Regions from separate parts of the Homo sapiens genome. Here all the other regions are linked to region 1. The links come from fine-mapping of genetic effects on gene expression. A gene starts in region 1. Each other region holds a variant in brackets. All regions are shown on one strand. Distances are between the middles of the regions.

What was found. PIP is the estimated chance that this variant, and not a neighbour inherited with it, causes the effect.
Region 2: its variant is the best candidate, but not a certain one, in a credible set for the expression of SHC2 in skeletal muscle (GTEx, PIP 0.84).
Region 3: its variant is the best candidate, but not a certain one, in a credible set for the expression of SHC2 in whole blood (TOPMed, PIP 0.71).

Annotation. Positions count from the first base shown.
Region 1 is chr19:459,278-463,407 of GRCh38, forward strand. It overlaps SHC2 (SHC adaptor protein 2), which reads right to left and starts at 1,756. Exons shown (of 13, transcript NM_012435.3): 1 at 1,252-1,756. The coding sequence starts at 1,719. It overlaps CIMAP1D (CIMAP1 family member D), which reads right to left. Exons shown (of 4, transcript NM_182577.3): 4 at 4,084-4,130.
Region 2 is chr19:423,044-427,173 of GRCh38, forward strand. It overlaps SHC2 (SHC adaptor protein 2), which reads right to left. Exons shown (of 13, transcript NM_012435.3): 10 at 2,054-2,188. Among named protein-coding and RNA genes, the nearest start is that of C2CD4C, 16 kb to the left of the region's middle. The variant G/A (reference allele first, on the strand shown) is at 2,247.
Region 3 is chr19:480,877-485,006 of GRCh38, forward strand. It overlaps a transcript of CIMAP1D not described here. Among named protein-coding and RNA genes, the nearest start is that of CIMAP1D, 8.0 kb to the left of the region's middle. The variant T/C (reference allele first, on the strand shown) is at 2,585.

The DNA of each region.
Region 1 (4,130 bases):
GGAAGGACCCCACTGAAGCCAGCGTAGGGGGAAGGACCCCACTGAACCCAGCGTAGGGGGAAGGACCCCACTGAAGCCAGCGTAGGGGGAAGGACCCCACTGAAGCCAGCGTAGGGGGAAGGACCCCACTGAACCCAGCGTAGGGGGAAGGACCCCACTGAACCCAGCGTAGGGGGAAGGACCCCTCTCAACTCAGCGTAGGGGGAAGGACCCCACTGAACCCAGCGTAGGGGGAAGGACCCTTCTCAACTCAGTGTAGAGGGAAGGACCCTACTGAACTCAGCGTAGGGGGAAGGACCCCACTGAACTCAGCGTAGGGGGAAGGACCCCACTGAACTCAGTGTAAGGGGAAGGACCCTTCTCAACTCAGTGTAGAGGGAAGGACCCTACTGAACTCAGTGTCCAGAAAAGCAAAGACACAACCCAATGTGAACACAGGCTAATGTTCCTGGCCGCAGAGGCCGGGAGGAGCTGGGAGCACCCACCGGTAGTGGCGTGCGGGAGTGGCTGATCATTTTCCCAGACGCCGTAATGACTGCAGCTGTAGGACAGCTGCTCTCTCAGAAGACGGGGGACTATGCACGGCGCTGTCACCCCTGCAGGTGACTTCACACGGTTTACTATAAACCACAGAGAGGGGCAGACCCGTCAGCAGAGGGGAAGGTTACCCTCCTAGGTGGAGGCGTGCTGTGTCCAGGCGCCCGACTTCCCCGTGTGTTTGAAAAGGTTCATTTATCATAAGACCCAAGGTAAATAAACAAAGGCCGCTTCCTTGGCCGCCCTGGAAGTCCCTGCTGCCTCCCATCTGGAATCCTGGGGTCTGTCCGGGCGCCAGCCCCTTTCCAAACACCCCTTCCCGCACCCCCACCGCAGGCCAGCGTCTCGGGCCCCGTCTGTCATTCGTGAACAGCTGTCCGGGGGGCTCCGGTGGCAGAGACGCCCCGGCCGCTCGCCGCTCTCGGCCTCGCCCGCCCAGTCCGAGTGGGGGGCGGTGCACCTGCGCATGCGCGCCCCTCCCCCGCCGCCCTCTCCCCGCCCCTCCCCACGTGACGCCGTGGGAACCCGGACCCCAGCGCCTCCGGGTGGGGGCAGCCGCCGGCCGCCGGCCGGGGATGGGGGTCCGGGGTGGCGGGAGAGCAGGAAGGATGGGGAGGGGACACCTGGCTCGCGGGGTCCGGGGGTCCCGGAGGAGAGGGTGGGGGAGGGGAGGCCGCCGCGAACGGGCTCCCGGGGGGGGTGGGGGGGACTCACCCGCACGACGTAGGAGACCCCGGGCCCCAGGACCCTGGCGTCGGGGTGTAGCCAGCCGTGCGCGGGTTTGTGGATGAAGCTGCCCTTCCGGATCCACTCGGCGGCGGCGGCGGCGTCCCCGGACCCCGCCGCCCCCCGCCCGCCCCGCGACCCCCGCGACCCCGCGCCCCGACAGCGGCTGAGCGCGGGCAGGGGACAGGGCGCGGCGCAGCGGGGCTCGCAGGCGCCCAGGACGGCGGCCGCCAGCGCCGGGACGCCCCCCGGGCCCGCCGGCTCGGGTTGGGGGTCCGCGCCCCCCGAGGCCCCAGCCGCCCGCGCCGCCGCCGGGCCGCGGCCCAGGAAGCCGCCCGGGGCCGCGAACTTCCACTGCGGCATTCGGGGCAGCAACGCGCAGAAGGTGGTGGGCGCCTCGGGCTCGGGGGGCGCGGGGGGCGCCGGGGGCGCGCGCCCGCCCGGACCCTGCGTCATGGCCGCGGCCGCCCGACGGAGCCCGACCGGGCGCTGCGCCTGGCGCGGAGGAAGCCCTCCCGCTCCGCCCGCTCCCTCCCGCCCCCCGGCCCGGTGATGTCATCCGCCCGGCCCAGCGCGCAGCCGCGGGGGGCTGCGCCCCTGGGACCCCGGCCCTCCTCGTCCCGGAGCCTGGCCGCGAGGCTGGGGAAACTGAGGCCCTCCGAGGACACCGGGCGCTGGCCTGGAACCCGCAGCCAAGGCGGGACGGGGCTTTGAACCCAGAACCCCGTCAGCGACCCTCCCCGCTGCGCCCCCCACCCCCGCCCGCCGCCCAAGTTCGCAGAAGGACCGAGCTGGAGAAGCTTAGAAATTCCACATCCCTTCTTTCCCCTATTTCCTAGTGGGGAAACTGAGGCCCCGGGAGGCGCGGCCAGGGAAAAGAGAACCCCAGACCCTAAGGTCAGCCCCTCCCTCTCCGTTGTTGCAGCTAGAAGGTACCTTAGGGTCACCCCTATTTCTTAGTGGGGAAACTGAGGCGCGGGGAGGGGAAGGGGCGCGGCCGAGGGCTCACAGACGAAGCTCAAACCCAGGAGTGCCGGCTCGGGGGTGGGGGGGGGGGGCGGGGCTAGGAGCGGAGCCGGGCCCCTGCTCTGCGGCCTGTCCCGGCCTCAGTTTCTCCGGCTGTAACTCAGGGGAGCGGGCTGGAGGGTCGCGGCCCTTCTTCCCTCACTTCTGGGGAGCCCAGTCCCGCACCAGCTCATCTGAGCTCTGGGCCTCAGCCTCCCAGGCCGGTCGCTCCATCCCCAGCCTCAACCTCTCCGAGACCGGCCGCACCTTCCCTGGCCTCAAGGGTCGGTTCCTTCTGCACCAGAAAACGGGGTGTCACTGTCACCCCGGGACCCAGCCTCCTGGCCCGACTTGGCTGGAGCTCCCCTGCACCTGCCCCGCCCCAAGCAGGGCTGATTGCCGGGAACAAAGGGAGGGGCCGGGACGCGCTGGCAGGTGGGGAGGGAGGGAGGGGCGAGGCTGCCCGGAGCCCGATCGATAATTCAGGGGATGAGATCACAGCCGGCGCCGCCCGCGGGGCCGGGGAGGTGGGGGAGGGGAGCGAGGCGCGCGGTCGCGATCGGCCGTCTCTGCCGCGGCGCGTGTCGGACTCAGCCCCTGCGCGTCCGCGGGAGGAGCAGATCGTGGGCGCGATTGGTCGGGCTGGAGCCGCGGCTGGACCTGCGCGCGGTGTGTGTGTTGTGCGCAGGGTGTACGCTGTGTCTGGGTGCGTGTCCAGGCATATGCAGGGGATCCAGGCTGCTGGGTCCTGGGGTGTGTTCACCTAATGGGTAAAGGGTGGGACAGGTTTGGCGGCCCTAGGCTGAGGGCTGTGGGCTGAGGAGAGAGCAGCCCCACCACCCCCTCTCTGCGCCCTGCATGCCTCCCAGGCTGCATCCCTCAGGGAGGTCCCGGGGCAGTGTCGCACCCTCCCAAGCTCCGGGATTAGGGTCTTTCTGGATGGGAGGTTTGTAAGGTGGTCCAGGTGCCATCCCTCCCTGGCACACAGAGGGCTCAGTCACACGGCACCCCCGGTGTGTTTCCTTCCTGTCCCTTGGAGACAGTGGCAGGAACTCAGTCCAACATCCAGAGTTCAAATCCTGACATCAGACTGAGGTGGGGGCTCACAGCATGCCCCAGGACAAATGTCCAGTCTCTCCAAAGCACCATTTCCTCTCAGTAGATGCCCCTGGTCCTGAGTTGCTATGAAGCCTAGATGATCTTTATTAATATCCAAAACATAGCAAGCAGCTACTGATGGCAGATATTAGAATACCTCAAGCTCCTATACATCCTTCAAAACCCAGCTTCAATATTGCCTCTTCCAGGAAGCCTACCTGGCTGCCTGCTCAAAAGCTTGGCTCCACCTCCGGCCTCCCCTCGCCCTGGGTCTCTCTTCTGGTCTCTCAGACCCCCTGGCCACTGGAGGGCTACGGGTCTGGCTCTGGAGGGCGGCGTTCGGGTCTCTTTTCTGTGACATCAATAGACACGTTAAGGCCGGGCTCGGTGGCTCATGCCTGTAATCCCAGCACTTTGGGAGGCCAAGGCAGGAGGATCACAAGGTCAGAAGATCGAGACCATCCTGGCTAACATGGTGAAACCCCATCTCTACTAAAAATACAAAAAATTAGCCAGGCGTGGTGGCGGGCGCCTGTAGTCCCAGCTACTCGGGAGGCTGAGGCAGGAGAATGGCGTGAACCCGGGAGGCGGAGCTTGCAGTGAGCCGAGATCGCGCCACTGCACTTCAGTCTGGGCGGGAGTGCGAGACTCCGTCTCAAAAAAAAAAAAAAAAAAAAGACACATTAAATGAGTAAGCACATGTGATGCTGACAGCTCTCCAGCCCAGGAAAGGTTTATTGGCTAAGCAACTGTAGAAGGTGGAG
Region 2 (4,130 bases), 36 kb before region 1:
TGGAGCCCCAGCCCTGACGGAGATGCATCTACCCGTGGCTGGGGCGGCCTTGAATTCCTCCAGCTCCTGGTCCTGGGGGGTCCTCCCGCCCTGACCCTCACTCCCTGGTCTCCCGCCCCTCCAGCTCCTGGTCCTGGGGGGTCCTCCCGCCCTGACCCTCACTCCCTGGTCTCCCGCCCCTCCAGCTCCTGGTCCTGGGGGGTCCTCCCGCCCTGACCCTCACTCCCTGGTCTCCGGCCCCTCCAGCTCCTGGTCCTGGGGGGTCCTCCCGCCCTGACCCTCACTCCCTGGTCTCCCGCCCCTCCAGCTCCTGGTCCTGGGGGGTCCTCCCGCCCTGACCCTCACTCCCTGGTCTCCCGCCCCTCCAGCTCCTGGTCCTGGGGGGTCCTCCCGCCCTGACCCTCACTCCCTGGTCTCCCGCCCCTCCAGCTCCTGGTCCTGGGGGGTCCTCCCGCCCTGACCCTCGCTCCCTGGTCTCCCGCCCCTCCAGCTCCTGGTCCTGGGGGGTCCTCCCCCCCTGACCCTCACTCCCTGGTCTCCCGCCCCTCCAGCTCCTGGTCCTGGGGGGTCCTCCCGCCCTGACCCTCGCTCCCTGGTCTCCCGCCCCTCCAGCTCCTGGTCCTGGGGGGTCCTCCAGCCCTGACCCTGGGGGCTGAGCCAGCTCCAACTCCTAGCCTGGCCAGTCAGCATGTTCACCTCCCCCTCCCAGCCAGCGACTGGTTTGGGGACGAGCACGTGGCGAATCAGAGGCAGCCCCAGGACTCTTCGTGGAGGACGGACGAGAAGACACCCTTCCTCAACCGGGGCTGCCTGGCAGTCTGGTCACCCTGAGGGACAGCCTGCCTCAGAGGGAAGCTCAGAGCCCCAAGCCCCTCCTTTCCCATCTGAGGGCTGCTGTGAGGAGCCAAGAGGAGCAAGCTCTTCACGTAGTGCTTGGTACACAGCAGGCGCCCACTAGGTGCTAGATGGTGTCATTATTGTGAAGCTGAGGAGAAGCTGCTTTGTCAGGTGGTGGAGGAAAGGGAGAAATTTGCAGTTAGCTTGGGAGGCATCCTGAGCTCAGGCAAGGACCCTACCCGGCAGCTCAGAGCCAACACCTCTCCGTGCTGGAGAAGGGCAGAGTCGAGGCTGCAGGAAATCAGGAGAGAACTCTGGACACCTCAGCCAAGGAAGGACAAGCCTCCTCCGCCCGGCTGGGGGCTCCCTCGGGCTGGGTCATCCACGGGGAAGGAAGGAACGGGCTCACCGTCAGACTAGCCACTTTGTCCAGAGGTGGACTAAGCCTCCCTCATTGGACTGGGCGTTCCTTCAAGCAGGAAGCTGTGCCTCCCCCATCAGGCCGGGATTTCCGTAGGAAGAATCCTCAGACCCCGGAGTCACGTGAAGAGAAAACTCATCAGACTAGGGAGACCCAGAGTCAGCGTGCAAGACCAGCGGGCCAGGCAGTCGTCCCAGCAGGCCGGGATTCCCACAGAGAAAAGACGAGGCCTCCCCTCTCAGACTAAGGAGTCCCATGGGGCGAGGGTCTGGCTTCCCCTGTTGACTGGAGGGCCTCACAGACGGGGCCGCAGCCTCCCACCACACTGACCATTCTTTCAAGGAATGACGAACCTCCTCCCTTCAGACCGGGGGTTCCGACAGAGGCAGGTGGGTTACCCCCGAGAGAGTGGAGCTTCTCACAGAGCGGGGGCCAGCGGCATTCCCAACCAGACTGGGGGTTCAGCAGGGAGGCCCCGGGAGATGGGGTCCTGTAGGAGGGGCTGGGCCTCACCCATTACACTGCTCGGCCGCATTCGCTAGAGAGAATGGGCCTCCCCTGTCAGACTGGCCCCTTTTAAGGCAGAGTCCAGGACACCCCCATCAGACAAGGCCTCCGACAGGAGACAGACTGGGCTTCCCCGTCCCACCCGTCGACTTGAAGGATCTCACGGGGAGAAGGGAGCCTCCCCCATCAGACCAGGGAATCCCGTAGGGAGTGGGGGTGGGGTTGTGCCTCCCCCATCAGACAACACGGCCACACGCGATGACGGCCGCCCCCCAGGCTGCCACATACGCATGTCAAACAGATCCTTTTTGGGGCTGTCCTCCGGCTCGGGGGCGTCCAGACCCTGGGTGTTGACATACAGGTGCTCCTCGTGGTCCGGGGGGCCCCGGGCGTCCGCCTGCACGTAGCCGTCCCCCGGTGGAGCTGGGGAGTGTAAAGAGGGGCAGGGGGTCAGCTGGGAGCCAGGCGAGGGGCTCGCAGG[G/A]AGCAAGGCGGGGTCCCACGAGGAGCTCCCCCGGCCACCACCTGTGCTGCTGGCTGCAGGGCGGATGCTGCTCTGGTCTCCCTGTGGTAACCCGCCCGTCTGCAGGTGCCACAGGGAGCATCTTACAGCAGCAAAGCCCCGTCGGGGCTCCAACCAGGGACAAGAGTGGGGCAGCGTGCGGCTGGGGCTGTGGGCACCAGACGTCCACGCCCAGGGAGAAGGCAGCCGCTGCTCCACCCCACCCCGCCCTGGCCCTCCCCGGCCCAGGGTCCAGAGCTTCCCAGTGCGTGTATGTTCAGTCTCCACATTTAAAAATAATCACAGTAACTCTGCTTCCCTGTAATTATGCTATCAACATGACGCACGGAGGGTCACTTATTCTGACTCAGTTCTATTTCAGGATTTTCCTTCCTTTCTTTTTTTAATTGTATTTTGAACGTGTAAAGTGTTTACATGGGGCCGGGCGTGGTGGCTCACGCCTGTAATCCCAGCACTTTGGGAGGCCGAGGTGGGTGAATCATTTGAGGTCAGGAGTTCGAGACCAGCCTGGCCAACATGGTGAAACCCCGTCTCTACTAAAAATGCAAAAATTAGCTAGGCGTGGTGGTGGGCGCCTGCAATCCCAGCTATTTGGGAGGCTGAGGCATGAGAATCACTTGAATTCAGGACGCACAGATTGCAGTGAGCTGAGATTGTGCCATTGCAGTCCAGCCTGGGCAACAGAATGAGACTCAGTCTCCAAAAAAAAAAAAAAAAAACTATCCACATGGTTCAAACCGGAACAGCATCGCAGGTAACCTTGGGGCATCTCCCTCGGGAGCTGCCTGGACCCCATGTGTATTCTGCCAGGTCCTGACCAGACTGCCTCTGCCTTGGAACAGGGTCTGGCTGTGAATCCACATGAACGTGAGGCTGCACTAGCCCTTGCTGGGTGACGAGGGCAGAGGGGCTTCTCCCCCGCCTTCCCAGTCTACCAAGAGGGGCACAGATTCTCTCAGCTTCTTAGGGTCAGGATGGGTGAGAGGGAAGAAACGCAGTTCCAAGAGTCCGGGGAGGGAGGACGACAGTGCGAGAGGCAGAGTCCGGGGAGGGAGGACGACACCGAGAGGGGCAGAGTCCGGGGAGGGAGGACGACACCGAGAGGGGCAGAGTCCGGGGAGGGAGGACGACACCGAGAGAGGCAGAGTCCGGGGAGGGAGGACGACAGCACGAGAGGCAGAGTCCGGGGAGGGAGGACGACACCGAGAGAGGCAGAGTCCGGGGAGGGAGGACGACACCGAGAGGGGCAGAGTCCGGGGAGGGAGGACGACACCGAGAGGGGCAGAGTCCGGGGAGGGAGGACGACACCGAGAGGGGCAGAGTCCGGGGAGGGAGGACGACACCGAGAGGGGCAGAGTCCGGGGAGGGAGGACGACACCGAGAGGGGCAGAGTCCGGGGAGGGAGGACGACACCGAGAGGGGCAGAGTCCGGGGAGGGAGGACGACACCGAGAGGGGCAGAGTCCGGGGAGGGAGGACGACACCGAGAGGGGCAGAGTCCGGGGAGGGAGGACGACAGTGCGAGGGGCAGAGTCCGGGGAGGGAGGACGACAGTGCGAGACGCAGGCGGGTGGAGGAATCCCTGGACCCTGGACCCGCGCTATGGGCACATTTGTAGGAGTTCTTGGCCAGAGAATCGGGAAGGGCATGAGTGCAAGTGAGAACAGCCCGGGTGTGGGCACAGGGGCAGGGAACGCTGGCGAGCCCCCGGTCCGGGGTGAGCAGCCAGCATCCCAGAGGAACGTGCGCCAGGACCAGAGCACAGCTGGGCACCGGGTGGGCACTCGATGGCTCGAGTTTCTCTGACCAGCTCGAGGGCTCTGACGCTTGGCAGCGAAATGCCAGA
Region 3 (4,130 bases), 22 kb after region 1:
ATGATGGAGAACGATGATGGAGAAGGAATGTGGGAAGGATGATGGGGAAGGATGATGGGAAGGATGATGGAGAAGGAATGTGGGAAGGATGATGGGGAAGGATGATGGAGAACGATGATGGAAAACGATGACGGAGAATGATGATGGAGAAGGAATGTGGGAAGGATGATGGGGAAGGATGATGGAAAGGATGATGGGAAGGATGATGGAGAACGATGATGGAGAACGATGATGGAGAAGGAATGTGGGAAGGATGATGGGGAAGGATGATGGGAAGGATGATGGGAAGGATGATGGAGAAGGAATGTGGGAAGGATGATGGGGAAGGATGATGAGAAGGATGATGGGGAAGGATGATGGGAAGGATGATGGGAAGGATGATGGGAAAAGATGATGGGAAAGTATGATGGGAAGGATGATGGGAAGGATGATGGAGAACGATGATGGAGAAGGATGATGGAGAAGGATGATGGGAAGGATGATGGAGAACGATGATGGAGAAGGAATGTGGGAAGGATGATGGGGAAGGATGATGGGAAGGATGATGGAGAAGGATGATGGGGAAGGATGATGGGGAAGGATGATGGGAAGGATGATGGGGAAGGATGATGGGAAGGATGATGGGAAGGATGATGGGGAAGGATGATGGGGAAGGATGATGGAGGATGATGGAGAAGGATGATGGGAAGGATGGTGGGAAGGATGATGGAGAAGGATGATGGGAAGGACAATGGGAGGATGACCGAGAAGGATGATTGGAGGATGATGGGAAAGGATAATGGGAAGGATGATGGCAACCAAGACCAACTCATCTTCACCAAGCTCATGGTGTAGCCAGAAAGTTGATCACCCACAGCAGCACTGCCCACCAGAAACAGACTGAGAACCTCCTACTTTTTTTTTTTTTTTTTTTTTGAGACAATATGTTGCTCTATCACCCAGGCTGGAGAGTGCAGTGGTGCAATCATAGCTCACTGGAGCCTCCAACTTCTGGGCTGAAGTGATCTTCCCACTTCAGCCTCTGGAGTAGCTAGGACTATAGGCATGTGTCACCATCCCTGGCTAATTTCTTTTTTGTGTGTGGAGATGGGATCTTGCTATGTTGCCCAGGCTGGTCTTTAACTCCTGGCCTCAAGCAATCCCCCTGCCTTAGTCTCCCAAAGCACTGGGTTTACAGGCATGAACCACCATGCTCGGCCATTTTTAAATTTTCTAGTAGTTGTATCAAAAAAAGAGAAACACGTGAAATTAATTTTAATAATACATTTTATTAACCCCCATATCCAAAATAATATCATTTCTGCATATGAACATTACAGGTGAGATATTTCACATTCTTCTTTTAATGCTGTCCTCCCAGCCTGGCATGTTTTGCACTCTCTGCCTCAGTGTGGAGCGTCCACAGTTCCAGTGCTCCAGCGTCACCTGTGACCTGTGGACGCTGTGTCGGGCAGCACAGGTCTAGAGAGTAGAGCCTAGGACTGATCCCTTGGGCCAATGGTGCTCAGCCATGGGTGTTGCTGCCCCCAGGGGACACTTGGCTATGTCTGGAGACATTCTTGGCTGCCAGGACCAGGAGTGCTGATGACATCTAGTGACTGGAGAACTACAACGCTGTTCCTCCCAAGAGAAGACCCTCAAATGTCAATGGTGTCAAGATGGGGAAATGCTGCCTTAGTGGATGGGCACTTATTAATCGCCTACTGCATACAGGGTGAGATCGGCAGGGCGTCCTTGGCATACAGCAGATTACTCATGCAGAACGGCTCTGCTGCCAGCTCTGTGCTCACAGGCGCCACCCCACGAGCTGTTCCATGCCTATCACCATGGACAGAGGCGGAGGTCACAAAGCCAGCAGGAGTGTGGACCTAGGACTCAAGTCCAGAATGTTCTTGGCCCTGCACTGTCCTGCCCACCTACACCTGCCAGTCTGAATGTCACCCACCCTGGCCGCCATCATACGAGCACCCCAGCCCCGCCCCTCGACGGGCACCGAGGCTATTCCCACTTCACCTCCTTTACAATTTCCTGCAGTGAACTTCCCAGGCAGACCTCCTGCGCCCATGAACCAGGGTTTCTGGATTAGACACTGTGTGGTCCCTGATGAATCACTGCACCACTGTGCATGTGTTTCCTCCTCTGAAAAACGGGCATATGTCAGCCTGACTCCACAGGGTCACTCTGAAGACAAGGGCATCTGGCCCCTTATCATTCAAACATCCTCTTCCAGCCTTCCCTCACTCCAGCAAATGGCACCTCCAGACCCATGCTGACTTGGATCCAAACCCCTGGGGCCGCTTCCTGGATCCAAAGCCCACTCAGCAGCTGACTGCTGCTCTCCACCTCACAGCCACGGCCCAGTCCAGGGCCCCATCCCCCCCCAACACCCACCCCCACCTCCTCAGGGATCCCTGGGACGCCTCTCCCAGCCCCAAAAGGCCACTCTATGTCAGCCAGAGCCAGCTCTTCAGACATGACCATGGGAAGCCCTACAGACGCCCATCCTGGCTGCCACTGCGTCTAGCACAGGCTCCTCCCCGACAGACCTCCACCTGCCTGAGTTCCCTCACCACTCCCCCAGGCA[T/C]GCAGGCTCACCCTCGTTCCAGTGACACGGAGCTATGAGATCATGGTGGGCTGAAATCAACAGACCAGGGGTTCCCAACCCAGGTGATTGCCCCCAGGGGACGCTGGGCAGTGTCCAAGGACACCTGTGGTCGTCACGACTGGGGGAGCTCCTGGCATGGGGTGAGTGGGGGCAGGGATGCCGCTAGGCACCCTGCAGTGGCCGGGACCACCCCACCTGGGATGTCCACAGGGCCTGCGGAAGACCCTGCAGCAGAGAGCCATCAGCTCTTCCTCTCATGGGTCCCCGGAAGCTCTGGGATCAATCAATCCCCATGGGGCCGGCTCTGGGATCAACACTGTGTCCCCAGCTCCCCGGAAGCCCCTGCAGCCATCTTCCTTCCCTCTACCTGTCAGCCGCCATCCTGCCTGTAAAGCCAGGCCCCGCTTTGCCTCTTCTGTGCGGCACGGGAAGGGGACGGTGCACTCATGAGACCTCCCACCCTGCCTGTGAGATCAGTCCTGGTGTGGGTGACAGCTGTCCATCACTCACTTCTGTTGCTGGGCAACGTTCCATCCCATGAAGATGCCATGATTTACTCAGAGCTTCTAGGCTGCTTCTAGCTCGGAACAACCGCAAATAATGCTGTGAACACATGTCTCTCTTGTTTTATTTATTTTTTTCTTTTCTTTTCTTTTTCTTTTTTTTTTTTTTTTTTTGAGACAGAGTTTCACTCTTGTCACCAGGCTGCAGTGCAATGGCGCGATCTTGGCTCACCACAATCTCTGCCTCCCGGGCTCAAGCGATTCTGCTGCCTCAGCCTCCTGAGTAGCTGGGATTACAGGTGTGCGCCACCACGCCCGGCTAATTTTTGTATTTTTAGTAGAGACGGGGTTTCTCCATGTTGGTCAGGCTGGTCTCGAACTCCTGACCTCAGGTGATCCGCCCGCCTTGGCCTCCTAAAGTGCTGGGATTACAGGCATGAGCCACCGCGCCTGGCCTCTTGTTTTATTTTTGACACAGGGTCTCATTCTGTGCTCAGGCTGGAGTGTGCAGTGACGTGATCACAGAAAGGAAACCTCAGAGCAGAGTTGGGTCTTCACATACGGTGGCCAGGAAGGCCCCCTGAAGAGGTGAAACGTTAGCAAAGGCCTGGAGGAAGTCAGGACCTCTAAGGGATGCCCAGCTGTGCAGACATCTACGGGGTGTCTGGGGAGGGCACCGCTGTGCAAAGGCCCTGGGGCAGGACCGCACCTGGCGAGGCGGAGGAGCGAGGAGGAGGCCAGGGTGGCTGCCGCAGGGTGAGGAGGGGAGAGCAGGAGGAGGGAGGGCGGGGCTGACCCAGCAGGTCGTGAAGGGCCCTGAGGACACGGAGAGGACACAGGGTTTTACCCTGAGCAGGGTGGGAGCCACGGAGGCCTCTGCTGGAGCAGAGGAGGGCACGGCCTGAATTGGGTTTGAAGGAATCGACTGAGGGTAGGAAGGTGGGGGTAGGGAAGCCCGGGGGAGGCGAGCACACCAGCCCAGGTGGGCACCACGGGGCCTGGGCTGGGGGCTGCTGTGGGAT